2 separate regions of the Homo sapiens genome follow, and region 1 is linked to region 2. The links come from fine-mapping of genetic effects on gene expression. A gene starts in region 2. The other region holds a variant in brackets. All regions are shown on one strand. Distances are from middle to middle.

Region 1 (13,919 bases), 53 kb before region 2:
TCAGCCCATCTTCTGTGTGAGCTGTCATGTGGGTCAGATGAGCCCAGTTTAGTTTGTGTGGTTCTCTCCGCCCTACAGAGGTAGGTGGTAGCCCATTCATCTGGTTACTGATACTGGCCGGCATCAGTGGACTGTCGGCAGGTCCTTGAGCAACTGGTGTGTGAAATGGGACGGACGTCAAAGGACAAGCGGGATGTCTACTACCGCCTGGCCAAGGAGAATGGCTGGCGTGCTCGCAGCGCCTTCAAACTGCTACAACTGGATAAGGAATTCCAACTCTTCCAAGGTCCCTGACTGGTGGGCAGGTCACTGGGCGGTGAGGTGGGCACAGGAGGTAAACAAGTAGGCTGGGTCTGCAGAGCTCCCTGTGGTAGGTGGGCTGACTCAGAGGGTCTCTGGGGCAGGGAGACAGGCAGGAAGATAGGCAGAATACCGGAGAGGAGTTGGGCACCTGGGCAATGGAGATATGTGGGTGCTCCCCAGGGGAGAGGGGTGAATTTTGCAAGGGTCTCCAGGTTGGAGAAGTGGGTGCAGCTGATCAGGATGCTTTCACTATGTATGCCCAGGCGTGACACGGGCAGTTGACCTGTGTGCAGCCCCAGGCAGCTGGAGCCAGGTGCTGAGCCAGAAGATCGGGTAAGTGTGGGGGTCCCAGATGGGAGACCCAGGAGGGCCGGCTGGGTGGGAGGGGCCCGGGAGCGAAACTAGGCTGATGTGGGCCATGTTGTCCACAGGGGCCAAGGGTCCGGCCACGTGGTGGCTGTGGACCTGCAGGCTATGGCTCCACTACCAGGTGTGGTACAGATCCAGGGGGACATCACCCAGGTAAGAGCATGGCTGAGGGTGTTGGGGTATATCCTGGGTGAAGGCCCTTACCTGGGGTCTATGCAGAGTGGAAGAGAAACAGAGAGGTGATAGAAACAGAGAGAGAAAGAGAGTGAGAGAGTAACCATGGAGAAACAGTCAGCAGGTCATCATTGCACAGACACAGCAGAAAATGATGATGCTGGGTCCCCAGAGGTGGAGCCCAGTCTTAGAGAGGCAAAGCCTGGGAATTTGGCTGACCCAGGGGCTGTGGGCCAGGACCATGGGCAGGCGGGATCTGAGGGCAGCAGTGGAGGGCCGTGGGGCCACTCATCCTCCCTCTCTCCATAGCTGTCCACTGCCAAGGAGATCATCCAGCACTTTAAGGGCTGCCCTGCGGACCTAGTGGTGTGTGACGGGGCTCCTGATGGTAAATAGCAACAGAAAGTGGGAGGCCAGGCGGGGCCCCCTGTGTGTGTCCTTCTCTGTATCTCCCACCTTGGTTGACTTATTCACCTCTTCAGTTACTCCCTGCCTCTCCCTTCCGCACTCAGCTTTCTCCCACATCTGGCAACTTCTCCCTACCTCTGCTGCCTGTTCTCTCTCTGCCTCTCTCTTCCTCCCACTTGCACCCCACCCTTTGAGTTTCATGTCTGTTGTCTACCTTTCCCTGCTCTCATCTCTCTGCAACTGTCCAATTCCGTTGCACTGTTCATTCATTTTCAGCCAGCCAGCCATTCAACACACATTTACTGAGCACCTATTGTGTTGGGAAAACATTCATGAATAAAATTCCATTAATCTTTAACCTCATGGAGCTGATGTTCTAGTGGGAGCAAATGGGAAAGAAAATAAATGATTCAGCTCTGTACCATTAAAAGGGGATGGGGCCAGGCATGGTGGCTTCCACCTGTAATCCCAGTGCTTTGGGAGGATGAGGTGAGAGGAACACTTGAGGCAGGAGTTTGAGACCAGCCTTGCAACATAGCAAGACCCTGTCTTAAAATATTAGCTGGCATGGTGATGCATGCCCATAGTCCCAGTTACTCAGGAGGCTGAGGTGGGAGGATCACTTGAGCCCAAGAGGTCGAGGTTACAGTACACTTTGATCGCACCACTGCACTCCAGCCTGGGCAACAGAGTGAGACCCTCTCTCTAAAAAAACGGGGTGAGGAGGCCGGGCACAGTGGCTCACGCCTGTAATCCCAGCACTTTGGGAGGCTGAGGTGGTCAGATCACCTGAGGTCAGGAGTTCGAGACCAGCCTGACCAATATGATGAAACCCCATCTCTACTAAAAATACAAAAATTAGCCAGGTGTGGTGGCATGTGCCTGTAATCCCAGCTACTTGGGAGGCTAAGACAGAAGAATCGCTTGAACCCGGGAGGCGGAGGTTGCAGTGAGCTGAGATCGCACCATTGCACTCCAGCCTGAGCAACAAGAGCGAAACTCCGTCTCAAAAAAAAAAGGTGGGGTGGGGGATGGGTACCATAGGGAAATCATTGAGCAGGAGGAAAGCAGGAGTACCTGTTGGAATTTTAAATCAAGTGGATGGGGAAGGCCTCACTGACTTAACAGCAGAGACTAAAGGAGGTGGGGGAGTAAGCTATGGATATGTCTGGAGGAAGAGCAATCCAGGAAAAATTGCAGCCCGTGCAAAGGTCCTGAGGCAGGAGGGTGCTTGCTATGTATGAGTAATGACAAGCAGATCACTGTGGTTGGAACAGAGTGAGGGGGGGAGAGTGGTAAAAGGTAACATCAGAGAGGTAACAGGGGACAGATCCTATAGGGCCTCGTGGGCCATGGTGAGGCTGTTGGCATTTTCACCGAGATGAGAGCTTGGAGAAAACCATGAGAGGGTTGTGAGGAGAAGAGGACTGTGCTGGGCTTGGGCTACTATGAGCTGTGTGAGGGCCAAGGGCAGAAGCAGGGGCTCCGGGGTGGAGTAGTCCAGGCAAGTGATAATGGGTGAGGGCAGTGGTGGAGAGGAGAAGATCAAGTCAGATCTTTTGAAAGTAGATGTGTTAATGGCTTCGATGTGGGTGTGAGGAGAGGATGCGGGGGGAGCATCAGAGGTGACTAAGGTTTTGGATTTGAACAATTAGAAAGCTCAGATGAGATGGGGAGGATGGTGGGAGGAGCAGGTTTGGGGAGGTAGGTCAGGAGTTTGGTTGTGGATGTATTGGAGATGTAGAATCTGATTTGTGAATCT[G/A]GAGTTCAGAGGAACAGTCTGGGCTGGAGGTGGAAATGATAATGATGCTTGTGTGTGAGGTTGTTTTAGAATTGAAATGAGTTCCTAAGGGTTAGGAGCTCAGAATATGCATCCAGTTGGCAGACAGTAATTTGCATCTGGAACCTTAGCAGTAAGACAGCCTGGAAAATGTATTTAGTGTCTGATCTGTGTGGTACAAGAAGATGCACAGAGCCAGATGGGACCCCCCTAACGCTGTTCCTCTTGCCACAGTAACCGGTCTCCATGATGTTGATGAGTATATGCAGGCCCAGCTCCTCCTAGCTGTGAGTAACCCTGGCCACCCCTGACCCACTTTGGCCCCCTCCTGGCTGTCTCCACCTCAGCCTCAGCCGTCTGTCCTGCCCACAGGCTCTGAACATTGCTACACATGTCCTGAAGCCAGGGGGCTGCTTTGTGGCCAAGGTAAGTCTCAAGGAACTTGGTGGAGTAGAGGGAGGTCGCTGAGGGCCACCCTCACCCGCTGTCTTTGCCTTCTCACCCTGCAGATATTCCGAGGCCGGGATGTGACGCTCCTCTACAGCCAGCTGCAGGTCTTCTTCTCCAGCGTGCTGTGTGCCAAGCCCAGGAGCAGCCGGAACTCTAGCATCGGTCAGTGGGGTGGAGGGGCCAGGCAGGCAGAGGGGGATCTCTGGGACGCCGACTGCACGAGGAGGAAGCGGCAGTCATGCCTCACTCCACCTTCCCCTGGCAGAGGCCTTCGCTGTCTGTCAGGGCTATGACCCTCCCGAGGGCTTCATCCCGGACCTGAGCAAACCCCTGCTGGACCATTCTTACGGTGAGAGCTGGAGCATGGGCCACCCTGGGGGACTCTGCCACACCTTATGCAATCTAGGTCCCATGAGGGCCCACAGTCTCACCCCCTGGGGGAGGCTCTGTCCCCTCATGGGAATTTTTTTCCCAAGGGGATCCTTAGCCCCATTCTCTGATGGAAATCCCACCCCTTTATGGGTATTTTGTCCCGGGAGGAGCTTCAGCCCAGGCAGTCCTCTAGTGGTAACTCTTGGGCCTGGTGAAAATTCCATCCCAGGAGGATCCTGAGCCCTGCCCCAGTGGAGACTCCACCTGCCTAAGGACATTCTCTCCTAGGAAGATCTCAGTCATGTCCCAGGTGGAAACCTCCTCGGTGTGAAACTTTTGCCCCTTAAGCCTCTAGCAGGAAGAGACAGAGCCTGCCCCTGGGATGACATTTGAGTGAGGGAGACGTCATCCAGGCAGCATATAATCCAATATCAGGTGGACATAAATGCAGTGAAAAATAGCAGGGCACCGATGTTTTAGAAGGGGTGATTATGGAGGGCCTCCCCGAGGAGGTGATCTGAACCAAATGAAGGATTTCTGGTGGGGTGGGAAGAGAGTAGCTGGTGGATATGTGGGGAGGGTTTGGCAGCCATACCGCCGCCTGTGTCATGACTGGCCCCAGGCATCCTGACCTTGTCCTCAGTTGTCTCCCCCTGTTCCTAAGACCCAGATTTCAACCAGCTGGATGGTCCCACCCGCATCATTGTGCCTTTTGTGACCTGTGGGGACCTGAGCTCCTATGATTCGGACCGCAGTTACCCACTGGACGTGAGTGCCCAACCAACAGTAGGTGGGTGGGAGGGAGGCTGTCCTAGGTTACCAGGTCCTCACCATCTCCCTACCCCTCTGTCCCTGCAGCTAGAGGGCGGCTCAGAGTACAAGTACACTCCACCCACACAGCCCCCCATCTCGCCACCATACCAGGAGGCCTGCACGTTGAAGAGGAAGGGGCAGCTGGCCAAGGAGATCCGCCCCCAGGACTGCCCCATCAGCAGAGTGGACACGTTTCCCCAGCCCCTGGCCGCCCCTCAGTGCCACACCCTGCTGGCCCCTGAGGTCTGGAAATGTGACTCTCAGCCTGCCTTGACCCCTTCCCCGTGTGCCTTTTTCTGACCCAAATCTCATGGTTTCTGGGGCCAAAATTCCCTTTCCTGCCTCCCAATAGCTATAAAAAATTGGTAAAGCCAAGCATAATGAATGGAAAAGTTTCGCCAAATATGTGAGTCACTTTTCTTTTTCTTGGGTAGATGGAAGACAATGAAATGAGTTGTTCACCTTAACCCATTACGGTAAGTTTGCCTTGTTATCTAAGAGTTTGAGTAAGGGCAACCTTTATGAAAAACCTCAGTAAAATTTCACCTTTGAAATTTTTATGTCAACTGATAAGATTTTAATCAACAAACCCTTTTCTAAACATCTGTTGTTGTATGCCAGGAACTGCTTTAAGCATTTTACATTTGAGGCATTCAGTAAACATTTATTGAGCACATACTGTATGTCAGGTGTTGTTCTAGGTTTGGAGATAGAGCAGGGAGCAAAACAGAAATATCTTGGCTCTCACAGTACTTCCAGTTTGGAAAAGAGGCAACAATCAAAACAGTCTGTAAGTGCAAGAGTTTACATACACATATATACTATATAGCTTGCATTTCTCAATTTACATATCTTGCAATATATATAATATATAAGAGTAATATGGGATATAAAAAATAGAAAAAAGTAAAGCAGGGTGAAGAGAATCAGGAATTCTAGGCATGGCAGTTTTCATCTTTTGGTGTTTTTGTTTTGAGACAAGGTCTCACTCTGTCGCCCAGGCTGGAGTTCAGTGGTGTGATTTCCCGGGCTCAAAAAATCCTCCCACCTCAGCCTCTCAAGTAGCTGGGACTACAGGCATGTACCACCATGCCTAGCAAATTTTTGTATTTTTAGGGGAGATGGAGTTTTGCCATGTTGCCCAGGCTGGTCTCGATCTACTGGGCTCGAGCGATCTGCCATCCTCGGCCTCCCAAAGTACCAGGATTACAGGCATGAGCCACTGCGCCCAGCCAGTTTGCACTTTTTAAAAGGGTTGTCATAGAAGGCCTCAGACATTCCTCAGAGGTAATGTTTGAGCAAAGACCTGAAGGCACTGCCGGAGGGAAGCCATGTGTTTATCTGAGGGAAGAGCATTCTGGGTAAAGGAAATAGGCATGTCCCAAAGGTGGAACTGCACGTGGTATGGGAGGAAAGTTTATCCATAGCCAAATGTTCTAAAACCACGATGTTAGAGGATGGCCCTTTCTGACAATGGCATAGCAGGTTATTCAGACTAAGTCAGCCATCACAAAAAGCCACCTTTTTTTTTTTCTTGAGACAGAGTCTTACTCTGTTACCCAGGCTGGAGTGCAGTGGCATGATCTCAGCTCACGGCAACCTCCATCTACCAAGTTCAAGCGATTCTCCTGCCTCAGCCTCCCAAATAGCTGGGATTACAGTGCCCGCCACTATGCATGGCTAATTTTTGTATTTTTAGTAGAGATGGGGTTTTGCCATGTTGACCAGACTGGTCTCAAACTCGTGACCTCAGGTGATCCACCTGCCTCGGCCTCCCAAAGTGTTGGGATTACAGGTGTGAGCCACCACACCTGGCCTTTTTTGTTTTGTTTTTTGTTTTGTTTTGAGAACAGAGTCTCGCTCTGTCGCCCAGGCTGGGTGGAGTGCAGTGGCACTATCTCAGCTCACTCCAACCTCCGCCTCCCGGGTTCAAGAGATTCTCCTGCCTCAGCCTCCTGAGTAGCTGGGATTACAGACGTGTGCTCCCACCTCACCCGGCTAATTTTTGTATTTTTAGTAGAGACGGGGTTTCACCATGTTGGCCAGGCTGGTCTCAAACTCCTGACCTCACAAAATCTGCCTGCCTCAGGCCTCCCAAAGTGCTGGGATTACAGGCCTGAGCCACCACACCTGGCCACAAGAAGCCACCTTAAGAAAAAATTGAAACAGCAAATCATTGTGTGAAAGAGATTTACAGTTTTTAATATTTAAAGGGTCCTGTAAATCAATAAGGAAAAACATGAGAGTGGCCAGTAAGCACATGAAAAGCTGCTCATCAGGAAAATACAAGTGAAAACTCAAAATATCAACAACACTAAGTATTTGAAAGGATATGCAGCAATTGAAAGCCTCGTACATGCTACTGGGAAGGTAAAATGGTGCAGCCACTGTGGAAACTTAGGCATTACCTACTAAAGCTGCATGTGTGCCAGTTCCACTCCTAAGAAATGAGTCCTAGAGGCCGGGTGCCGTGGCTCAACGCCTGTAATCCCAGCACTTTGGGAGGCCGAGGTGGGTGGATCACCTGAGGTCAGGAGTTCAAGACCAGCCTGACCAACATGGCAAAACCCCATCTCTACTAAAAATACAAAAATTAACCGGGCATGGTGGCGGGCACCTGTAATCCCAGCTACTCAGGAGGCTGAGGCAGGAGAATCACTTGAACCTGGGAGGTGGAGGTTGCAGTGAGCTGAGATCGTGCCACTGCACTCCAGCCTGGGTGACAGAGTCAGACTCCATCTCAAAAAAAAGGAAATGAGTCCTAGAGTGTTGCTAGCAGCACTATCTATAGTATATGCCCATTAAATCGTGGTACATTCACCGTGGAGAACTGTACAACAATGACAGTGAACATCCTGCAATTACACCAAATAACACCTTGTAGTTATTCATTAAACTGAACATATATAGGTTTTATGCATTTTCTATATGTCATGGTTCACCATAAAAGGAGGAAATGTCACAAAAATGTTAGCAGCAGAGTTAGCTAGGTGTGGTGGCACATTCCTGCCTGTAATCCCAGCTACTTGGGAGGCTGAGGTGGGAGGATCACTTGAGCTTGGGAGGTTAAGGTTGTCGTGAGCTATGATGGAGCTCCACTGCACTCCAGCCTGGGTGACAGAGCAAGACCCTGTCTCTAAAAAAACAAAACAAAACAAAAAAACTTTCTTTGACTTTTGGTTAGCTGGCAAACTGATACAACTCAGAAACTGCTCAATGTCAGGAAAACCGGAACTTGTTGATGAACTTGTTTTCAAAATATCATCTCATCAACGAGGCCTGGACAAACAAGCCCTGAGGAGGGATCTGCAACAACCCTGAAGACAACAAGGAAAGAAACCATGAAAGTCTGTCTGTACTGCAGTGGGAATTCTTGAGTGAGGTCTTACCTCTTCTTTAAACCTCTTCAGGAGTGTCCTGATTATGTCCAGAATTTTCCCTAAAGGCAGGGATTCTTAACCTGGATAGAAGCCAGGGGTAACCATGAACTTGATGGAAGAAAATGTTACATCTTTATTTTCAGCAATGAAACTGAAATTTAGCCTTACTCCCAAGTTATAAATGCTGGCAACAAATCACAGTAGTAAAAGCAGTACCTGGGATTTTCCCACCAATACAAACCAGTTACAGCAACTGTAATGTAACATAAAAAGGGCATCTTGAAGTATTGTTCATATTTGTCACCTCTTGGAATGATAGCAGATCCTGTAAGTTGATGTATTAATTAAAAAGCCCATATATTACTGCATCTCAATTTTGTTTCAATTTAATATATAGTAATAATTGTAATTCAATGTAATTGGCTTCCATTGTAATTGTGTGTGTGTGTATGTGTATGTATATACTTTTAAAAATATTCTGTGAAGGGGTTCACAGATTTAACCAGATGCCAAAGGGTTCTGCAGAACAAATTTATTTATTTATTTTGAGACAGAATTTCGCTCTGTCACCCAGGCTGGAGTGCAGTGGTGTGATCTTGGCTCACTGCAACCTCTGCCTCCTGGGTTCAAGCGATTCTCCTGCCTCAGCCTCCCGAGTAACTGGGATTACAGGCACCCGCCACCACACCCGGCTAATTTTCGTATTTTTAGTAGAGACGGGGTTTCACCATTTTGTCCAGGCTGGTCTCGAACTCCTGACCTCAGGTGATCCACCCACCTCGGCCTCCCAAAGTGCTGGGATTACATGCGTGAACCACCGCACCCAGACTTCAGAACAAATTTTTTAGGTTAAAAACCTGTCTTAAAGAAACGTCAGGGCCAGGCGTGGTGGCTCACGCCTGTAATCCCAGCACTTTGGGAGGCTGAGGCAAGCGGATCACTTGAGGTCAGGAGTTTGAGACCAGTCTGGCCAACATAGTGAAACCCGTCTCTACCAAAAATACAAAAATTAGCTGGGTGCGGTGGCACATGCCTGTAATCCCAGCTACTCAGGAGACTGAGGCAGGAGAATCACCTGAACCCGGGAGATGAAGGTTACAGTGAGCCGAGGTCGCGCCACTGCACTCCAGCCTGGACGACAGAGTGAGACTCTGTCTCAAAAAAAAAAAGCAATGTCAGAAAGTCTACCTGGACTGCAGTCCTAAATTTCTATAACTTAATGAACAGGAGCTGACAGAAACTCCCCAGCTACACGAACAGAACTGTTTTCTACAGCTTAATCCTGTGTCCTTAGAAATTCACGTACTCTGTGATCCAAGGACTATCCACGCCACAGTCCAGTGACCTCAGGAGTATCCACATACCAGTCTGCGACCCCAGCTGTTTCCACACCTGACTGTGACTCACCCCAGTTACCATGTGTGACCCCAGGAGTATGCACACTCAAGTCTGGGAAAACCATTGTCCAATCTCCAGTCAGAAATGGTGTTTAAATTCTGGAGCGTGTGTTCATAGGCATGTCTACACTCCGGTCTCTGACCACGAAAATAACCACACCCCAGTCTGTGTGACTCCAGGAATGTCCAGACCCCAGTTTGTGTCAGTCTAGGAGTGTCCACACCATGGTGACTTAACCCAGGAGTCTTCTCACCGAAGTCAGTGTGACCACAGGAATGCCCACACCCCAATCTGTGAATATGCACAGCCCAAGAATGTATGGCGGAAGTGTCCACACAAAAGGCCGTGTGACCACAGGCGTAGCCACACCCATTACAGTGCAAATTCAGCAGCGTTCACACGACAGCCTGTGAGACCTCAGGAGTGTCCTCACGCCAGGTTCTGTGAGTCCAGCAGTGGCAATGGCTTGGAGTTTCCATAGCCATCTTAGTGGTGCCATAAATGTGTAGCTCAAACGGTGACCACAGAGGAGTCCACAGCTCAGTCTGTGGTGTCCTGGGAGTGGTTTTGCCCCAGTCCAGCCACCTCAGGAGTGTCCCCACCCAAGTTTTTATGACACAAGTAATGTCCAGTTCCCAGCATATGTGACCCTGGTGTTGTCCAAACCCCATAGTCTCTGGCTATTAGTGTGTCTATACCCATCTTGACGGCCTCAGGCAGGTGCACTCCCCCATCTGTACGACCAGAAGACTATCGACTCCCCTGTCATTGTGACCACAGGAGTGTAAAACTCCAGTGCCAGTGACTACTGGTGGGTCCACATTCCAGTCTGGGTGACCCAGGGGAGGGCACAGCCCTGTCTGTGTGACCATAGGAGTCTTCACACCCCAGTGTCTGTAAACACACAGGAGTCAATTCCCCAGTCAGTGTGACCAGAGGAATGTTCACACCAAATTGTGTGACCACAGGAGTGTCCACACCTATCTGCATGTCCTGAGAGGTGTCTATACTCCAGTGGGTATGACACCAACAGTGTCCACAACAAAGTCTGTGTGACTCCAGGAGTGTCCCTCCCCCCAGTCAGTGGGAGTCTAGAAGGATCTACACCAAGTCTTGGGAGCCCAAGGGTGTCCCTTCGCCAATCTTTGTCACTCAGGGGACATTCACCCCCCAGTCACACAGACGAAGCATATCCACAGCTGGGTCTGTGTGACCCCAGCAGAGTCTACTTCACAAGTCGTGTAACCACAGGAGTGTCCCCAGACGAACCTATGGGAATCCAGGAGTGTCCACATCACAGTCACTTGACCACAGTGGTGCTGACTTCCCAGTTTATGTATCCTTAGCCATGTCCTTTTTCCAGACTGTGTGACCCTAAGTGTCCACACCCCAAACTCGGTGATCCAAGTCACTCCAGTCTGCGTGACTCCAGTGTTGCCCACACACCAATCTGTATGACCCTAAGAGAACACATCCCGGTCTGTGATGCTTCAGCAGTGGCCACACCCTACTCTGTGTGACCCCAGAAGTGGCTACACCACAATCAGCATGACCTCAGGATTTCTTACTCCAAAATCTAGTAACATCATGAGTGTCTACACCCTCACCTGTGTGATTCCAAGAGGATCCACACCCCAGGCTGTGTGACCCTGGGAAGGTCCCTATAGCAGTCAGTGTAAACCTGGGAGTGCACTCTTCCCTGTCAGTGTGAGCTGGGAGGGTGTATCTAGAGGAAGAGTGATCCAGGGAAAGGCGAAGGGCCGGATGTGGTGGCTCACACCTGTAATCCCAACACTTTGGGAGGCCAAGGTGGGTGGATCACCTGAGGTCAGGGGTTTGAGACCAGCCTGGGCAACATGGTGAAACCCCGTCTCTACTAAAAATACAAAAATTAGCCAGGCGTGGTGGCACATACCTGTAATCCCAGCTACTTGGGAGGCTGAGGCAGGAGAATCACTTGAACCTGGGAGGCGGAGGTTGCAGTGAGCTGAGGTTGTGCCACTGCACTCCAGCCTGGGTGATAGGCCAAGACTCTGTCTCAAAAAAAAGAAAGAAAGGCAAGGGCCCTGAGGCAATGGCCCTGAGGTGCCTGGCACATTTGAAGAACAGGCCAGTGGGGCAGGAGCAGAGTGAACAAGGAGCCAGTGGCGGGCGGTGAGGTCAAGGAGGGCCCGGAGGGCCTCGTGGGCCACGGAGAGGACTTTGGCTTTTTCTCTGAGAGAGATGAGAGCCATGGCAGGGCTCCGAGCAGAGGAGGGCCCCGGGCTGACTTGGGTTGCAACAGGATCCCTCTGGCTGCTGTGGTGGCGGCTACTCAACTGTTATTGTTTGTCAAAACTCAGAGAACTGTATGCCAAAAGGGTGAACTTTATCGTATGTAAATTATAACTCTTTACATTTAAGTTATAACTTTTGGAAAATGTGCAGTACTGGCCAGGCATGGTGGCTCATGCCTGTAATCCCAGCACTTTGGGAGGCTGAGGTGGGAGGATCGTTTTAGCCTGGGAGATTGAGGCGGCAGTGAGCTGAGATCATGCTGCTGCCCTCCAGCCTGGACAACAGAGCAAGACCCTGTTTTGAAGAAAAAACAAAAAACAAAACAAAACAAAAAAAGTGCAGTACTTTGCAAGCAATAAAGATTTCTATTTCTGCAAGAGAGGCTGTGCTCATGCCTGTCCTTACCCCTCTCCTTCCTGCACAAACACATCTCAGGAATGCACCTGAGGAAAAGGAGGGAGCCGGGGCCTCCCTCAACTGCTCAAGGTAGTGCTCCCTTTGTTGTCTGCTGTGAACTGAATTGTGAATTCAGCAAATTCCTTTGTTGAAGCTTTAATCCTCAATGTGACTGTATTTGGAGATGGGGGTAATTAAGATTAAATGAGGCCATAAGGGCAGGGTCCTAATCTGATAGAACCGGTGTCCTCATTAGAGAGGGAAGAGATGCCTGAGCTCCCTCCCTCTCTCCCTGTGGGCGCACAAAGGAAAAGCCACATGAGGACAGAGAAAGAAGGTGGCTGTCTACGAGCCAGAAAGAGAAGCCTCACCAGAAACCAACCCTACCGGCACCTTGATCTTGAACTTCCAGCCTCCAGAACTGTGAGAAAATAAACGTCTGTGGTTTAAGCCACCCAGTCTGAGGTATTTTGTTAAGGCAGTCTGAGCAGCTAATTGGCTCTCAGTTTCAAGGCTGATTTCAAGAGACTCGTGTTGGCCAGGTATGAGGGGAGCCAGTGCTCAAGTGAAGGAAGGAAAATTCAGCACATCCTCCTCGTCTAGCTGAAGGGGGCTCTGGAGCAGCAGGAGGGGCCCAGGGCAAGCCTGGAATGAAATCCGTGGCACTCCTGCAGGTTCTGGGGGCGGTGTCCATGGAATATCCTCTGCCACATAACAAAATGACTAATAATTGCTTGGGGAGCTTTCAGAACTGCCCCAAGGCTTCCTCTAACACTCCACCCACACCTGGTTCATGCCAGGTTGCTCGATGCCTTGGTTCGGGAGAATAGGTGTGGTGTCATCTCAGGCTTGGTGGCAGCCCAAGGGAAGGGGCAAGTGTTCTGAGTCTCTCTAGATGACACAGGAGCTGAGGAAAGCTGGAGTGAATTATGAGTCACAGCCCGTACCTCACAAGAAAGTTCTGCCCGATGCCAGAGCTGGGAGCCATCACCAGTTATGCAGGGTTGGTGGAGAAGAGCCTCGGGATAATTGGTATGCATGCCCGCACATAGGTGTGTGCGTACCAGTACGTGTGAAGTTATGCAGGAGTGCGTGGTGTGCTTATGCCCATGTGTGTGCACATTAGTCCTTTTGTGCATGCATGCATACATGGCACATGTGTGTGCATTCATGCTTTGCTGTTTTGAATGCAGGTATGGTTATAAGTGCATATGGGCAACAGAAGTTCAAGTGTGAATTCTCATGGAGATGCTAGGGTGTAGCAGGCACATGGGGACCTGTTCCCTGACAGGGGTGTTTGTGAAAAGCAACTGTGCATATGTGTGAGGGTGTACTTATATATGAGATTCTATGTGCAAAGCCCTATGTCCGTGGGTGCTAGCCTGAGTGTTTGTGTCTGTGTATATACATGTGTATGCCAGCGTGCACATGCATGGCTGTGTGTGAGTGCGTAAGTGAAGGGGAGCACATTGGCCCAAGCTGGTAAGTCTAGTATCTATGCATGTATACCCCTGGGCACCGCCCCCCCCGCCCCGTGCAAGTGTGAGTGAACAGGTACACAAGGGCCTGGGCGTAGATGTCTGTGCACATGTACGTGGGCATGCTGTATGCATGGCTGCAGGGATTTCCCACGTGTGTGTGTGCACAGATGCACAAGTGCCCAGGAACCTAGATTGTGGTGTCTGTACACATGTACCTCTGGGCACCATGCATGTGTGTGTGCAAAAGTGCAAGTGTGCCTATGGGCTCAGGTCTGGCTGTCTGTGTACATATACCCCCTGGATGCCCATAAAGGTGTG
Region 2 (14,882 bases):
TTTGGGGAGGACACAGTTCAGTCTATAACATTCTGCTCTCTCTGGCCTCCCAGAATTCATGTCCTTGCATGCAAAATACCTTCACCCCCATCCCAGCAGCCCAAAACTCTCTTTTGTTTTTTTGGAGACAGGGTCTTGCTCTGTGGCCCAGGCTGGAGTGCAACGGCACGATCTCAGGTCACTGCAACCACAGGGTTTCACTATGTTGGCCTGGCTGGTCTTGAACTCCTGGCCTCAGATGATCCACCCACCTCAGCCTCCCAAAGTGTTGGGATTATAGGCATAATTCACTGTGCCATAAGCCACTCTGAAAGCTCTTAATCAAGTCTAGCATTAACTTTCAGTCCCAAGTCTTACCTAAATATCATCCAAATCAAGTGTAAATGAGACTGGAGGTATGATTCATCCTGATGCAAAAATTCTTCTCTAGCTGTGAACCCGTGAAACCAGATAAATCATCTGCTTCCAAAATTCAGTGGTAGGACAAGCATAAGCTAGATAGATATTTCCATTCCAAAAAGGAGAAATCACAAAGAAGAAAGGGATCACAGTCCAGGCGTGGTGACTCACGCATGTAATCCCAGCATTTTGGGAGGCTGAGATGGGAGGGTCACTTGAGCCCAGGTATTTGAGACCACCCTGGGCTACATGGTGAAACCCCGCCTCTACAAAAAACTAAAAAATTAGCCAGGTATGGTGGTACATGCCTATAGTCCCAGCTCCTCAGGAGGCTGAGGTGGGAGGATTGATTAAGCCCAGGAGGTCGAGGCTGCAGTGAGCCCTCTTCTCACCAGTGCACCCCAGACTGGGCGACAGAGCAAGACCCTGTCTCAGGAGAAAAAACAGGGATCACAGGTTCCGAATAAGTTTGAAACCAAATAGGGCAAATTCTATTAGATTTTTAAGGCTTGAGAATAATCCTGTTTGGCTCTATGTTCTGTCCTCTGGGCCCACCAGATTGGGGGCCCCACTTTCCTGGTTCACTGGAGAGGCGGTGTCTCTCCCTGAGCCCTGGGTGGCAGCCTGGCCCACTGAAACAGAGGAGGCCTCTTTGCCCTCTGGAACTGAGGAGGAGACAGCCCCACCTTTGGGATCATTCTCCCTTTTTCTTGAAGTATAATGCATGTTCACAGCCAGAAAGCTCTGTTGTCGTGTCCTGTTGAATCCCAGAAGTCCTACAGTCTTCTTTCATTTTGTCCCATCTCTGTCCTCTTTAGTCCCAGCTGGCCGTGTTTCTGCTGGTATTACCCATCTGTATTCCTGGCTTCTGCCAAGATGGCTGATTAGGTCAGTGAGTCACACCCATGATCTCTTTGTGGCATGATTGTTTAGCCACACCCTTTGTCTTCTCACCAGAACACATTCTCAGCTTTTGCAGTGTTGGATAGGCTGAGAACTTTTTTATCTTCACATTCGAGTTCCCTTCTGCCTGACAATTTCTTTTGCAATTTCTCTCTTTCCTCTTGCATTCTACTAGAAGCAGCAAGGAGAAAAAGGCCACATAATATGCTGCTTAGAAATCTCCTTAGCTAAATCTCCCAAGTTCGCCTCTCACAAGTTCTACCTTCCACAAAACACTAGAATACAATTAACCAAGTTCTTTGCCTTCCCTCCATTTTCCAATAACATATTCCTCATTTCCTTCTGAGGCCTCACCAGAAGCACTTTCAACATCCATATTTCTACCAGTAGCCTTCAAGATAATTGTCTTAGTCATTTGGACTGCTCTGACAAAATACTATAAACTGGGTAGCTTATAGGCAACTGAAATTTATTTCTCACAGTTCTGGGGTCTGGGAAGTCCAAAATCAAGGTGTTGGCAAATTCAGTGTCTAGTGAGGGCCTGCTTCCTCACAGATGGCTCCTTCCCTCTGTACCCTTATATGGTGGGAGGGTAGAACTCCGGTCCCTTCATCCCTTATAAGGGAATGACCTAATCACCTCCCAAAGGCCCCACCTCCTAATATCATTACACTGGGGATTAGGTTTCAACATAGGAATTGGAGGTTGGGGGGACACAAATATTAAGATCATAGCAGCAACATAGGCTTTTTCTAACATGCACCTCAAAACTCTTTCAGCCTCTACCCATTACCCAGTTCCAAAGCTACTTCCATGTTTTAGGTATTTATTATGGCAGCACCCCACTTCCCAGGACCAAAATCTGTGTCAGTTTTCTAAAACTGCCATAACAAAATGCCACATACCTGGTGGCTTAAACAACAGAAATTTATTTCCTCAGAGTTCTGGAGGCGGAAAATCCAAGTTCAAGGTGTCAACCAGTTTAGTGTCCCCTGAGGCTTGTAGATGGTCACCTTCTCGCCATGTCCTCACACAGTCTTCCCTCTGCCTGCGCATGTCGGTGTCCTAATCTCTTCTTATAGGGACACCAGCCAGAGTGGATTGGGACCCGCCTTCACCAACTTCATTTTAACTTAATCACCTCTTGAAAGGCCCTATTTTCAAATACAGTCACATTCTGAAGTATTGGGGGTTAGGGCTTCAGCATGAATTTTGGGGAGATACCATTCAGTCAGTAATACCGCTCTGTGCTCACCCCACTCACTCCCTAATACTTAGCCTCACAGATCTTCCATCATTCACCCCACAAACCCCCATCACATGCCCTGATTACTCAGCCCACAGATTCCCCTGCATTGCTGCCACATGGACCCCCCCAACACCCACCCTATAGACTTCCCATCACAAACCCTAAAGATCCCCCATCACTCACCCCACAGGCCCTATCGTGAACCCTACATATTCACGTCATTCACCTCACAGAGCCACATTACTCATCCAACAGACTCCACCCCTGGATCATTCAGCTTATTGGCCCCTAATCACTTCACTCACTCTACAGACTCACTCATCACTGACTCTACAGAGCTCTAATCACTCATCCCATTGACACCCCATTACTAACCCCACAGGTGCCTCCCACTCATCTCACAGGCCCTCCATCTCTCACACCACAAAGCCCTCTCACCTTATGAGCTAGCACATCAGCACCCCTACAGACCCCCAGTCATTCCCCCACCCCACAGATGCCCCCGTCACCCCATAGATCCTCATCAGCCATCTACAGATCCCCCATTCCTCAAAGTCCTCCTTCACTCCCCCTACAGACTTGCCCCACAGCCCCCATCATTAATCCCACAGAATCCTGCCACTCGCCACTCAATACCCCATTCACTCCACAGGCTCCTCATGACCCTACAGACCCCGTCACTACCCCACAGATCCCTATTACTCAGTTTATTATCCCCTGATCATACCTTCCAGAGAGGCCCCATCGCTAACCCCACAGACCCTAATCCTCCCCTGTGTTAGTCGGCTCTGGCTTCCGTAACAAAATGCCACAGACCAGGTGGCTTAAACAACAAACAGTTTCTCACACTTCGGGAGGTTGGACAGTCCAAGTGCAAGGTGCCATCAGGGTTGGTGTCTGGTGGGGTTTCTCTCCTTGGCTTGCAGATGGCTACCTTCTTGCTGTGTCCTCACGTGGCCCTTTCTCTGTGCACTCATGCCCAGTGTCCCTCTTCTTATAAGGATACCAGTTCTACTGAATTAGGGCCCCACCCTTATAATCTCATTTAACCTTAATTACCTCCTTAAAGGCTCTATTTCAGATATAGTGACATTATGTTGAAATATTGGGGGCTGGTTCCCCTGATATTAGGGCTTCAACATATGAATTTGGGGAGGAGGACATCATTCAGTTCATGACACTCCCCATCACTCACCCCACAGATGCCACAGCTCTCACCTCACAGAGCCCCCAACACTCCTACCACATATATTCCATCACTCAGCCTCTTGGCTTCTGATAAGCCACCCCACAGATCCCCCATCACTCTTCCCACATACCCCATCAACTCCTAAGATACCCATCACTCTCCCTACCAACACACATTCATTCGTTTCACAGATTGCCCATTATTGACCCCACAGAAACCCCGTAACTCACCACACAGACCTCAACCCCATCACTCACCCCCACAGGCCCCTATCACCCCCAAAATCTTCACTCTGAAGATCCCATAACTCACCCCAGAAGCCCCTCATCAGTCACCCTAACAACCCCTATCACTGACACCACAGACCCACCACTCATCCTACAGATGCCCCTTTACTAACCCTATAAGCATCCCATAACTCACCTTGCAGAAGCCATCACTCAACCCACAGAGTCCATCTCTCATCCCACAGACCCCTTATCACTCACACCACCATCCCATCTCTCAACTCACGGTCCTCCACAATCCACCATATACACCCCATCACTCACCCACAGATGCCATCATTCACCCCTCAGACCCCCATGACTTACCTCATAGTGCACCTATCATGTACCCACAGACTCCCATCCACCCCAGGGATCCTCCGTCACTCTCCACAGACCTGCTATTATTCACCCAACAGACACCCCTCACTTACTCTACAGACCCCCATCACTCATCCTGCCGTCTATCATTACCTTATAGACCCTCCATCATAAAACAACTGGGTACTTGAGAAGTTTTGAAGAGATGGAAAAGAATAAATAATAAAACCACAGATACCTGTAGACTGGCTTCAAGTGACCTCTGTAAGGCCGGGCACAGTGGCTCACTCCTGTAATCCCAACACTTTGGGAGGCTGAGGCGGGCAGATCACCTGAGGGTTGGGAGTTCAAGACCAGCCTGGCCAACATGGTGAAACCCCTTCTGCACTAAAAATACAAAAAAATTAGCCAGGTGTGGTGCCAGGCACCTGTAATCCCAGCTACTTGGGAGGCTGGGGCAGGAGAATCACTTGAACCCGGGAGGCAGAGGTTGCAGTGAGCTGAGACTGCACCATTGCACTCAAGCCTGGGCAACAAGAACAAAACTCCGTCTCAAAAAAAGAAATATCAAGTGACCTGTGGACTTCAGTTCAAATCCTGGCTCTGCTTAGGCCTACAGTATATAGCTTTGGAGAAATGCCTCACTGTTAAGGTCAAAGCCCTGCATGATCTCACTCTATTCTCACCTCGTCTGCTGTCACTCACCTATCATTCACTCTACTTAAAGGCATGCTGACTTCCTTGCTTTTCCTCAAACACAACAGGCATAGCCCCAAGTTCCATCCATTGCACTGCCTACTCTCTGTGACACTACCCCCTTTGACCTTGAGCTTGTTTCTCCCTGGCTTTCAGTACTCTAATCTGTAGAATGCTTAGAGTAATAACACCTACCTGCTATGGTTCGAATGTTTCTCCCCTCCAAAACTCATGTTGAAACTAAATCTCTTTTTTAACAGAATTAAGGAGGTGGGAAATCTGACTACGGTATTTGAGAGATGGGACCTTGAGCGGTAATTAGGATTAGATTAGATGAGGTCATAAGGGTGGGGCATTAGTGGTTTTCTAAGAGGAGAAACAGATCTGAGCTAGCAAGGTCAGCACCCTTACCATGTGATGCCCTGCTCTGCCTCGCCACTCCACAGAGAGGCCCCACCAGCAGAAGGCCCTCACCAGATGTGACTCCTTGACCATGGACTTCCCAGCCTCCAGAACTGTAAGAAATAAATTTCTTTTCTTTCTTTTTTTTTTTTGGTGGGGGGGGGGTGTTGTTGTTGTTGTTGTTTTTAGAGACAGGGTCTCACTCTGTCACCCAGACTAGAGTGTAGTGGCATGATCACAGCTCACTGCAGCCTCAAACTTCTGAGCATAAGCAATCCTCCTGCCTCAGCCTCCTAAGTAGCTAGTACTACAGGCATACTGCCATGCTCAGCTAATTTTTAAATTTTTTTGTAGAGACAGGGTCTTGCTATGTTGCTGAGGCTGTTTTGAACTGGCCTCAAAGCAATCCTCCCACCTCAGCCTCTCAAATTTCTTTATAAATTACCCAGTCTTGGGTATTTGATTATAGCAACAGAAAAATGGACTAAGATACTACCTCATAGGGTTTTTATGCAGATTATAAGAATTAATTTATGTAGACTGCCTAGCATATACTTTATATTTGTTGAATGGAAGAATGAATAAACAAAAAAGAAAGTTCTCCCCAGGACTATGGCAAGGACCTCCTTTTTGATCTCCTTGCTTCCAGTATCTTTCCATCCAAAGCTCTCCCCAGGACCAAGACAGAGGCATCTGACCACATCATACCCCTGTCTAAACCTTTGCCCCAGTGTCCTTAGGATCGATTCCAAACTCCAGGCTAATGGTTTGCACATCCCACCCTATGATAAATGAAAAGCAGGCTCTTACTCCTTGTTTCCATCAGAAAATCCAGCAGTGCTATAAGTGATTTTGACTCTAAACACATGGGGCAAGAGAGACATGCCAATAATCCTTTTCTGGCTTTCAGAGAAAATCCCCATTATTTATACCTTCTAAAAATAGAGATATCTATTTAATGTTAATACCAAGGCAACATGTTGTCTTAAAAGACACCAAAATAGAATTGCAGACTTACCTAAAAAGTTAACCTTGAGGGTTGCGTCCATATGACACGGACACAATAGTTGGAGTGCTAGTATCTTACAAGACTCCTTTGTTGGAAATAACATTTGTTTTTGTTTTTTGTTTACTTTTTTTTTTTGAGACGGAGTCTCGCTCTGTTGCCCAGGTTGGAGTGCAGGCTGGAGTGCAGTGGCGGCTCACTGCAAGCTCCGCCTCCCAGGTTCACACCATTCTCCTGCCTCAGCCTCCCGAGTAGCTGGGACTACAGGCGCCCGCCACCACGCCTGGCTAATTATTTTGTATTTTTGGTAGAGACGGGGTTTCACCGTGTTAGCCAGGATGGTCTCCATCTCCTGACCTCGTAATCCGCCCGCCTCGGCCTCCTAAAGTGCTGGGATTACAGGCGTGAGCCACTGTGCCCGGCCAGAAATAACATTTGTAAGTGCAGCCTGTATTTTGTCCAAACCGCACGGATGTTGTGCAATTAAGTGGGAAGACTGCCTTTTTGCATTTTGCCACATATAAAGTTTCTCAGAAGAGTCTAAGATATATTCAATAATTCAGCCAATATCTAGTAGACATACACCATTTAAGAACAGGACCAACCTTAACATGTTATGAAGATTAGGTAAGACAAAAGCAAAGTTTTGTGGGCTTTTTTTTTTTTTTAATCAGGTTCTCACTCTGTCACCCAGGCTGGAGTGTAGTGGCGTGATCACAACTCCATTGCAGCCTGGACCTCCCAGGCTCAAGTAATCCTCCCACCTCAGCCTCCCGAATAGCTAGGAGCACAGGTGCGCACCATCAGACCCAGCTAATTTTTTTTTTTTAATTTTGTAGGGACAGGGTCTTCCTATGTTGCCCAGGCTGGTCTCAAACTCCCCGGCTCAAGCGATCTTCCCACTTCGGCCTCCCAAAGTGCTGGGATTACAAGTGTGAGCCACTGTGCCTGACTCAGTTTATTTTTTAAAATTTTTCTTCATTTATTCTTGGCTTCTTCCATTCATTGTTTTGATCACTAACTATGTGCTCAGCACATTGCTGAGCCTTTTGCATGCTCTGCTGGGCATTCCCCATTTGCTCTTCCGGATCCATTATCCACCCTGCTCTGGGACCCCAAAAAGCTGATCTTTTATAGATGGTATCATTTGGGCCCCATTGATTGGTTCGTAGTTGAGCCTGGCCACTTCTCTTTCAACTGGTCCCTGGCAGTCAGTACCAACATTTTAGTCAGGTTTCAAAGAAATCTCTAGACCAAGCTGGACAGAGGGCTTTTCCAGTGATTCAGTGATTCCCCAAGATCTGAGAATGTGAAACTTGGAAAAGGGACACAAAGACCGGGGATCCTTTGAGCTGGTTCAATAATGGCAGAGCTTTAGAGATATGCTGCTGAGCTCCCTGGGTCTGTCTCGCTTTCTGCCTTCTGAAGGCTTGATTGTTAACTTCTTCCTGGGTTTCAATTAGAAGCATTAGTGTCCTTCCTGGAGTTGAATTACCTGGAAATTTGCCTCCTAGATGTGTAAACTTGGGAAAGTATGATCTCGTCAAGTTTCAGACAAAGGCAAACTAAAAAGCTAGAACTCCAGAGAGCATAATAGTGTTTTTTGGGGGCAAATTATTTAATGAAGTATAACATTCATACAGGAAGTACAAAAATCATCAGTGTACAAAATCTCCATGAATTTTCACAATGTGTAAACCATTTTCCTGTTTTATCTGACCTTACTAAGTCAGGGTATAAATTATTAATTTTTTTTGAAACAGGGCCTTGCTCTGTGGTGCAGGTTAGGGCAGTGGTGTGATCACCGCTCACTGCAGCCTTGACTTCCTGGGCTCAGCCATCCTGCCGCTTCAGCCTCCCGAGTAGCTGGGACTGCAGGTGTGCGCCACCACGTCCAGCTAATTGTTTAATTTTTTGTTAGAGACGGGGTCTCGCTGTGTTGCCCAGGCTGGTCTAGAACTCCTGGGCTCAAGCGATCAGCCCGCCTCGGCCTCCCAAAGTGCTGAGATTATAAGGCGTGAGCCACTGCACCCTGCTGAGTATATTTTTAAAAACACTTTACCCGAGGGCTGTGGCTCACACCTGTAATCCCAACACTTTGAGAGGCCGAGACGGGTGGATCACTTGAGGTCAGGAGTTCGAGACTAGCCTGGGCAACACAGCTAAACCCTGTTTATACAAGATATACAAAAATTGGCTGGGCGTGGTAGCACGCGCCTGTAGTCCCAGCTCTTGGGAGGCTGAGGCAGGAGGATCGCTTGATCATAGCTCACTTTGAGGCTACAGTGAGCTGTGATCGCGCCATTGCACTCCAACCTGGATGACAGAGCGAGACCCTGCCTAAAAAAATAAAAAAAAAAAGGATTTTTTTCTGTTCAGTGGATTCATTTGAAGCGAGGGCCACTGGTATTTGAAATAGATGACATCATCTGCCAGCAGAGGCGTGAGGCAACTTGAGGCGGGGTGTGGGCCTGACGTCATCACGCAGCCTCTTCCTTTCCCCGCCCCCTTCTCTTGGCGAACGAGGCGTCAGTTTAACACCTCCGTGAATCCGGAAGTATGCTGTCAAAACAACCAAACCACGGGGCTGGGGGAGGCGGGGCCTCAGTAGGCGTCTGCACGCTAGCTGAAATAGAGCAAAATGCCCGACTTTTGGGGGCGGGGCTCCTGGCAACAGCACTCTAGGCGCAGGCGCAGAGGCGACCTCCAGGCAGGGCCAGGTGGGAGGGACGGTGGGGGGTAGGGTCGCGCGGCGCCCTCTGCGCCTGCGCCCCGGCACGAGGTGGGGCGGCGGGCGTCAGTACAGTAGAGTGTGCGCCGGGGTGGGGGGCAACGGTCAGCCGTCACCCTGAGACGGGCGGCGGCGGGATGGCAACAGCCTCCGGGGCCTCGGACTTGTCTGGCTCCGGAGCGCCCCCGCCCGGTGTGGGAGCTCAGGCGGCGGCGGCCGCTGAGGAGGAGGAGCGAGAGGTGGTGCGGGTCCGAGTCAAGGTGAGGCTGGCGGTGAGTCGGCCCAGCCGCCGAGGCATCCCAGGGGAGGGGGAGGCGGTGGCTGTCATAGGATGGAGGGCGGGACCTGAGATTTCGGACATAACCTGAGCGGCGAAGCTTGAGGGCCAAGTGATGATGGCGAGGGGTAGGGAGGGCCTGAGAGCCTGAGAGCGTTAGCGACGTACCTTGGGGCGTGGGACTGAAAATAGAGGGACGAGGCGGGGGTCTATGGGATGAATGGGTGGAGCTTATAGACAAAGGGGAGGGGCTATGGGGCTGGAGGAGGGGCCGCAGTAGTTGAGGGTGGGGCTCTGAGGAATGAGAAGGTGCTGGCTCTGGAGTCAGTCAACCCATGTGTTGAGAGTGCACTTATGTGCAAGTTCCCACTTTGATGAGCTGACAGGCTCGTGGGTGGAGACAACTAAAGAAATGAGATGCTTCGGACACTAAAATAATGAAAAAGGTTATGAAATAGGGAGTCACGTTAGCCAAGGTTGTACAGGGAAATCCCCAGAGGAGGTATTGAAGGAGCAGAGACCCGAATAAAAGGAGTCAGCCATGTGCATATTAGAAGGGAAGAGTATTCTAGGCAGAAGGAATAGCAAGGGCAAAGACTAGAGGATGGGAATGAGCCTGGCATGTTCCCGTAGGTTCCTGATTGCTGGAGTGGAGAGAATGAGGGGAAGAGTGGTAGGAGGTGAATCAGAGCGCTAAGACAGAGACAGATCGCCAAGGGCCTTTGGTGTGTATGCTGAGGAAGAACGCTGTTGCCATAGTTCCAGTAAACAATGATGGTGGCTCCGACCAACCAGTGGCACTGGCAGTGATAAGAGGGTCCACACATCACTTCAGTGTAATAGAGCTCTAAGGTAGAAGTTTGACATTCAGAAAAAAGATGATGCCTGAGCTGGGCGTGAACCACGTGAAGAAAGTGGGAGGGATGTTCCAGACAGGGGATCAGCACAATCAATGGCCTGGAGTCAGGATGGTTTCAAGGTAACTTCTAACAGTTTGGTACTACTAGAGTGTAAAGTTCAAAAAACCTGGTGAGAGGCTGGCTGGGGCCCCATAGGCCCGCTTGCTGGGACTCTAGGGTTGCCATTGAAGAGATTGAAGCAGGGGAGTGTTGTAGGTAGATGTGTTAGATTGGTTACAGCACCATAGAGGACTGATTTAACAGGAGCCAGACTGGACACGGTGATTCTGGCAACCATAGTTGAAGGGATATAGAAGAAGGATTGGGGGCCTGAACTCTTGCAGTAGCCTCCTCCTCACTGGACCCTGTGGTCCAGAACACCTGCCTTGATCTGGCCCCTGGCACCTCTCTGACTTTGCCTTCTACCACTCTGCACCTCACTCTTCAGCATGGTGATGGGGCCCCTGGTGGCCTACCCCATGTCTTCTCTCCCCAGAAATGTGAGAGCTTCTTGCCGCCAGAGTTCCGCTCTTTTGCTGTAGATCCCCAGATCACCTCGCTCGACGTGTTGCAGCACATCCTCATCCGAGCCTTTGATTTGAGTGGGTGAGTGGGAAGATGCTGGGGACTGGCCAGTGGGCCACCGACCTCTACAGTGGCTATCTGGCCTTTGTTTGGTAGGGTTTTTGTTTATTTTACTACTACAAATAATCCCACAGTGAACAGCCACGTATGCATGTCTTGGAGCACAGTAGTCTACTTTTGTCTGTGGTTTTGCTTTCTGCAGTTTCAGTTACCCATGGTCAACCTCAGTCTGCAAATATTACATACAATAAGATATTTTGAGAGAGAGAGAGAGACCACATTCATATTACTTTTATTACAGTTTACAGACAGTCCCCAACTTACAATAACTGGACTTAGGATTTTTCAACTTTACAATGGTGCAAAAGCGATACGCATTTGGTAGAAACTGTACTGCAAGTGCCCAGCGATTCTGCTTTTCACTTTCAGTACAGTGTTCAATAAATTACATGAAATATTCAACACTGTTGTAAAACAGACTCTGTGTTAGATGATTTTCCCAACTGTAGGCTAATGTGAGCGTTCTGAGCACGTTTAAGGTAGGCTAGGCTAACCTGTGATGTTTGGTAGGATAAATGTGTTAAATGCATTTTCCTTTTTATTTCTTTTTTTTTTTTTTTTTGAGATGGAGTCTAACTGTCACCCAGGCTGCAGTGCAGTGACATCTCCCAGGTTCAAGTGATTCTCCTGTCACAGCCTCCCAAGTAGCTGGGACTACAGGCATGCACCACTATGCCCGGATAATTTTTTTTTTTTTTTTTTTTGAGACGGAGTTTTGCTCTTGTCCCCCGGGCTGCAGTGCAGTGGCGCAGTCTCAGCTCACTGCAACCTCCGCTTCCCGGGTTCAAGTGATTCTCCTGCCTCAGCCTCCCAAGTAGCTGGGATTACAGGCACGCACCACCACGCCTGCTAATTTTTGTATTTTTATTAGAGACAAGGTTTCACCATGTTGGTCAGGCTAGTCTCGAACACCTGACCTCAAGTTACCTGTCCACCTCGGCCTCCCAAAGTGCTAGGATTACAGGTGTAAGCCCCCGCACCCAGTCCCAGATAGTTTTTTGATCTTCTCTTTTTTTTTTTTTTGGAGACAGAGTCTCACTCTGTCACTTAGGTTGGAGTGCAGTGGTCCGATGTTGGCTCATTGCAGCCTTTGCCTCCCGGGTTCAAGTGATTCTCATGCCTCAGCCTCCAGAGTAGCTGGGATTACAGGTGTGCACCACCACACTCAGCTAATTTTCATGAGGTTGGTCAGGCTGGTCTCAAACTCCTGATCTCAAGTGATCCGCCCACCTCGGCCTCCCAAAGTGTTAGGATTACAGGCACGTGAGCCTCCGCACCCGGCCAATTTTTTGTATCTTTAGTAGAGACAGGGTTTCGCCATGTTGCCCAGGGCAGTCTCAAACTCCTGAGCTCAAGCAATCCGCCCGCCTCAGCCTCTCAAAGTGCTGGGATTACAGGTGAGCCACTGCGCCCAGCCAAATGCATTGTCAACTTACAGTATTTCCAACTTACGATGAGTTTATTGGTACATAACCCTGTCATAAGTCAAGAAGCATCTGTATTGTCATAATTGTTCTATTATTGTTAATCTCTTACTGTGCCTAATTTATCAATTAAACCTTATCATAGGTATGTATGTATATGAAAAAAAACATAGTATATATAGGGCTTGGTACTATCTGCAGTTTCAGGCATCCACTCGGGGGGGTCTTGGAATGTATCCCCTGTAGATAAAGAGGGACTACTGTATTTGGAAACATCTAGTCATAGGATAAATTCCTAGCAGTGGTATTGCCAGGTAAAAGGGTATTTGCTTTAAAAAAAATTTTTTTTTTGAGACAGTCTCATTCTGTCGTCCAGGCTGGAGTGCAGTGGTGTGATCTCGTCTCATTGCAACCTCCACCTCCTGAGTTCAAGCAATTCTCCTGCCTCGGCCTCCTGAGTAGCTGGTACTACAGGCGTGCGCCACCATGCCCGGCTAATTTTTGTATTTTTAGTAGAGATGGGGTTTCACCGTGTTGGCCAGGATCGTCTCGATCTCCTGACCTCGTGATCCACCCGCCTCAGCCTCCCAAAGTGCTGGGATTACAGGCATGAGCCACCGCACCTGGCCTGCTTTTTGAACTATTAATGGGTGTTTCCAAAATGCTCTCCAGACAGGTTTTATCAATTTATGATCTCAGCCGGGCGCTGTGGCTCATGCCTGTAATCCCAGCACTTTGGGAGGCTGAGGCAGGTGGATCACGAGGTCAGGAGATCAAGACCATCCTGGCTAACACGGTGAAACTCCGTCTCTACTAAAAATACAAAAAATTCTCCAGGCGTGGTGGTGGGCGCCTGTAGTCCCAGCTACTTGGGAGGCTGAGGCAGGAGAATGGCATGGGCCCGGGAGGCGGAGCTTGCAGCGAGCCGAGATCGCACCATTGCACTCCAGACTGGGCGACAGAGTGAGACTCCGTCTCAAAAAAAAAAAAAAACGAATTTATGATCTCATCAGCAGCACATAAATGCCTGTTTCCCTCACACCCTCGCAAACATTGGTTACTGTAAAACTGCAAAATTTGCCAATCTGATAGCTGAAAAGTGGTGTCTCTTGGGGGCAGATGTGATAGTCATTTTGTTGTGATTTTGGAGGAATACATACACATGGTAAGAAATTCAAACAGTACACAATTGTTGGGTATTTAGGATGTTTCCATGGTTATGATGAGCATCACGCAACAAACTTCTTTACATAGTTGCACAAGTATAGCTGAAAAATTCTTAGTTGTTATTAGACTTTCTTACATAAACATTTTTGTTGTGAAAAATAACAAACACAGATTGCTTTTTTTTTATGTAGTAAGAAGGCTGCTTTCTTCCCACTTCTGTCCCACATCTACCCCAGAGGGGACCAACTTTTTTTTTTTTTTTTGAGATGGAGTCTTGCTCTGTCACCCAGGTTGGAGTGCAATGCCACAATCTTGGCTCACTGCAACCTCCACCTCCCAGGTTCAAGCGATTCTCCTGCCTCAGCCTCCTGAGTAGCTGGGATTACAGGCACCTGCCACCACACCCAGCTAATTTTTTTTGTATTTTTAGTACAGAAGGGGTTTCACCATGTTGACCAGGCTAGTCTCAAACTCCTGACCTCAGGTGATCCACCCACCTCGGCCTCCCAAAGTGCGGAGATTATAGGCGTGAGCCACTGCACCCGGCCAACATTTTACCAGTTTCCAATGTGACCTCCAGATACAAGCAGGTGTGTACCTGCTTGTATGTGTTTGTGTAACAAAGTGGGTATAAATGACCTGATCTCAGGCTGCCCATAATCCTTGGCACAGTACCTTGCACATAGTAGGAAGTTGTTTTCAACGCCTTCTATATTACCCTCCTTGTTTTGGAAACTGTCCCTGAGGCCTCCAGGGCACCAGGGGCCCTGAGAGCTCCCTCGTATCCCCTGTCCAGGAAGAAGAACTTTGGCATCAGCTACCTGGGCCGGGACCGGCTAGGACAGGAAGTTTACCTCTCACTTCTATCTGACTGGGACCTCAGCACAGCCTTTGCCACTGCCTCCAAACCTTACCTGCAATTGCGTGTAGATATTCGGCCCTCGGAGGACAGTGAGTACTCAGTGCCCCCAGGAGCACTGCTCTGGAACCCCTTTACCCCATAGGGTGATGCTACCCCTCACAGTACACTCCCTCATGGTGGGATGGGTAGCAAGGTATCCTAGCTATAGATCCTGGCTCAGCCACTAGGCCACAATTTCTTCACTTGTAAAGAGATAATTGTATCTTAGAACCATTGTGAGGCCTTGTATCTTAGAACCATTGTGAGGGGAAATTCATATAAAATGCCTGGAACAGTGCATGACTGCATAATGAAGGCTCAGAAAGTGTTATCTCTAATAATGATAATTATATTGTATTATACTATTATAACATATAACCGAGTAATGTATGTAATAATTAGATATA

Alleles and levels. Alleles are on the strand shown, and positions count from the first base shown. SD is a standard deviation of normalised expression in the study named.
As copies of A replace G in region 1, the expression in minor salivary gland of the gene that starts at base 9,216 in region 2 goes down (moderate effect, 0.43 SD a copy in GTEx).

What was found.
Region 1: its variant is fine-mapped to the expression of TBC1D25 in minor salivary gland (GTEx, PIP 0.93).

Annotation. Positions count from the first base shown.
Region 1 is chrX:48,477,883-48,491,801 of GRCh38, forward strand. FTSJ1 (FtsJ RNA 2'-O-methyltransferase 1) reads left to right here. Exons shown (of 13, transcript NM_012280.4): 2 at 79-286; 3 at 567-636; 4 at 735-825; 5 at 1,156-1,234; 6 at 3,269-3,321; 7 at 3,407-3,460; 8 at 3,544-3,646; 9 at 3,750-3,833; 10 at 4,521-4,624; 11 at 4,715-4,912; 12 at 5,104-5,145; 13 at 7,854-8,468. The coding sequence starts at 166. The coding sequence ends at 5,136. Among named protein-coding and RNA genes, the nearest start is that of FTSJ1, 8.6 kb to the left of the region's middle. RefSeq lists a silencer at 11,206-11,439. The variant G/A (reference allele first, on the strand shown) is at 3,017.
Region 2 is chrX:48,530,499-48,545,380 of GRCh38, forward strand. It overlaps TBC1D25 (TBC1 domain family member 25), which reads left to right and starts at 9,216. Exons shown (of 6, transcript NM_002536.4): 1 at 9,216-9,422; 2 at 10,835-10,944; 3 at 14,371-14,525. The coding sequence starts at 9,300. RefSeq lists a cis regulatory region at 1,114-1,483, enhancers at 8,870-9,370, 9,371-9,871 and a silencer at 9,157-9,376.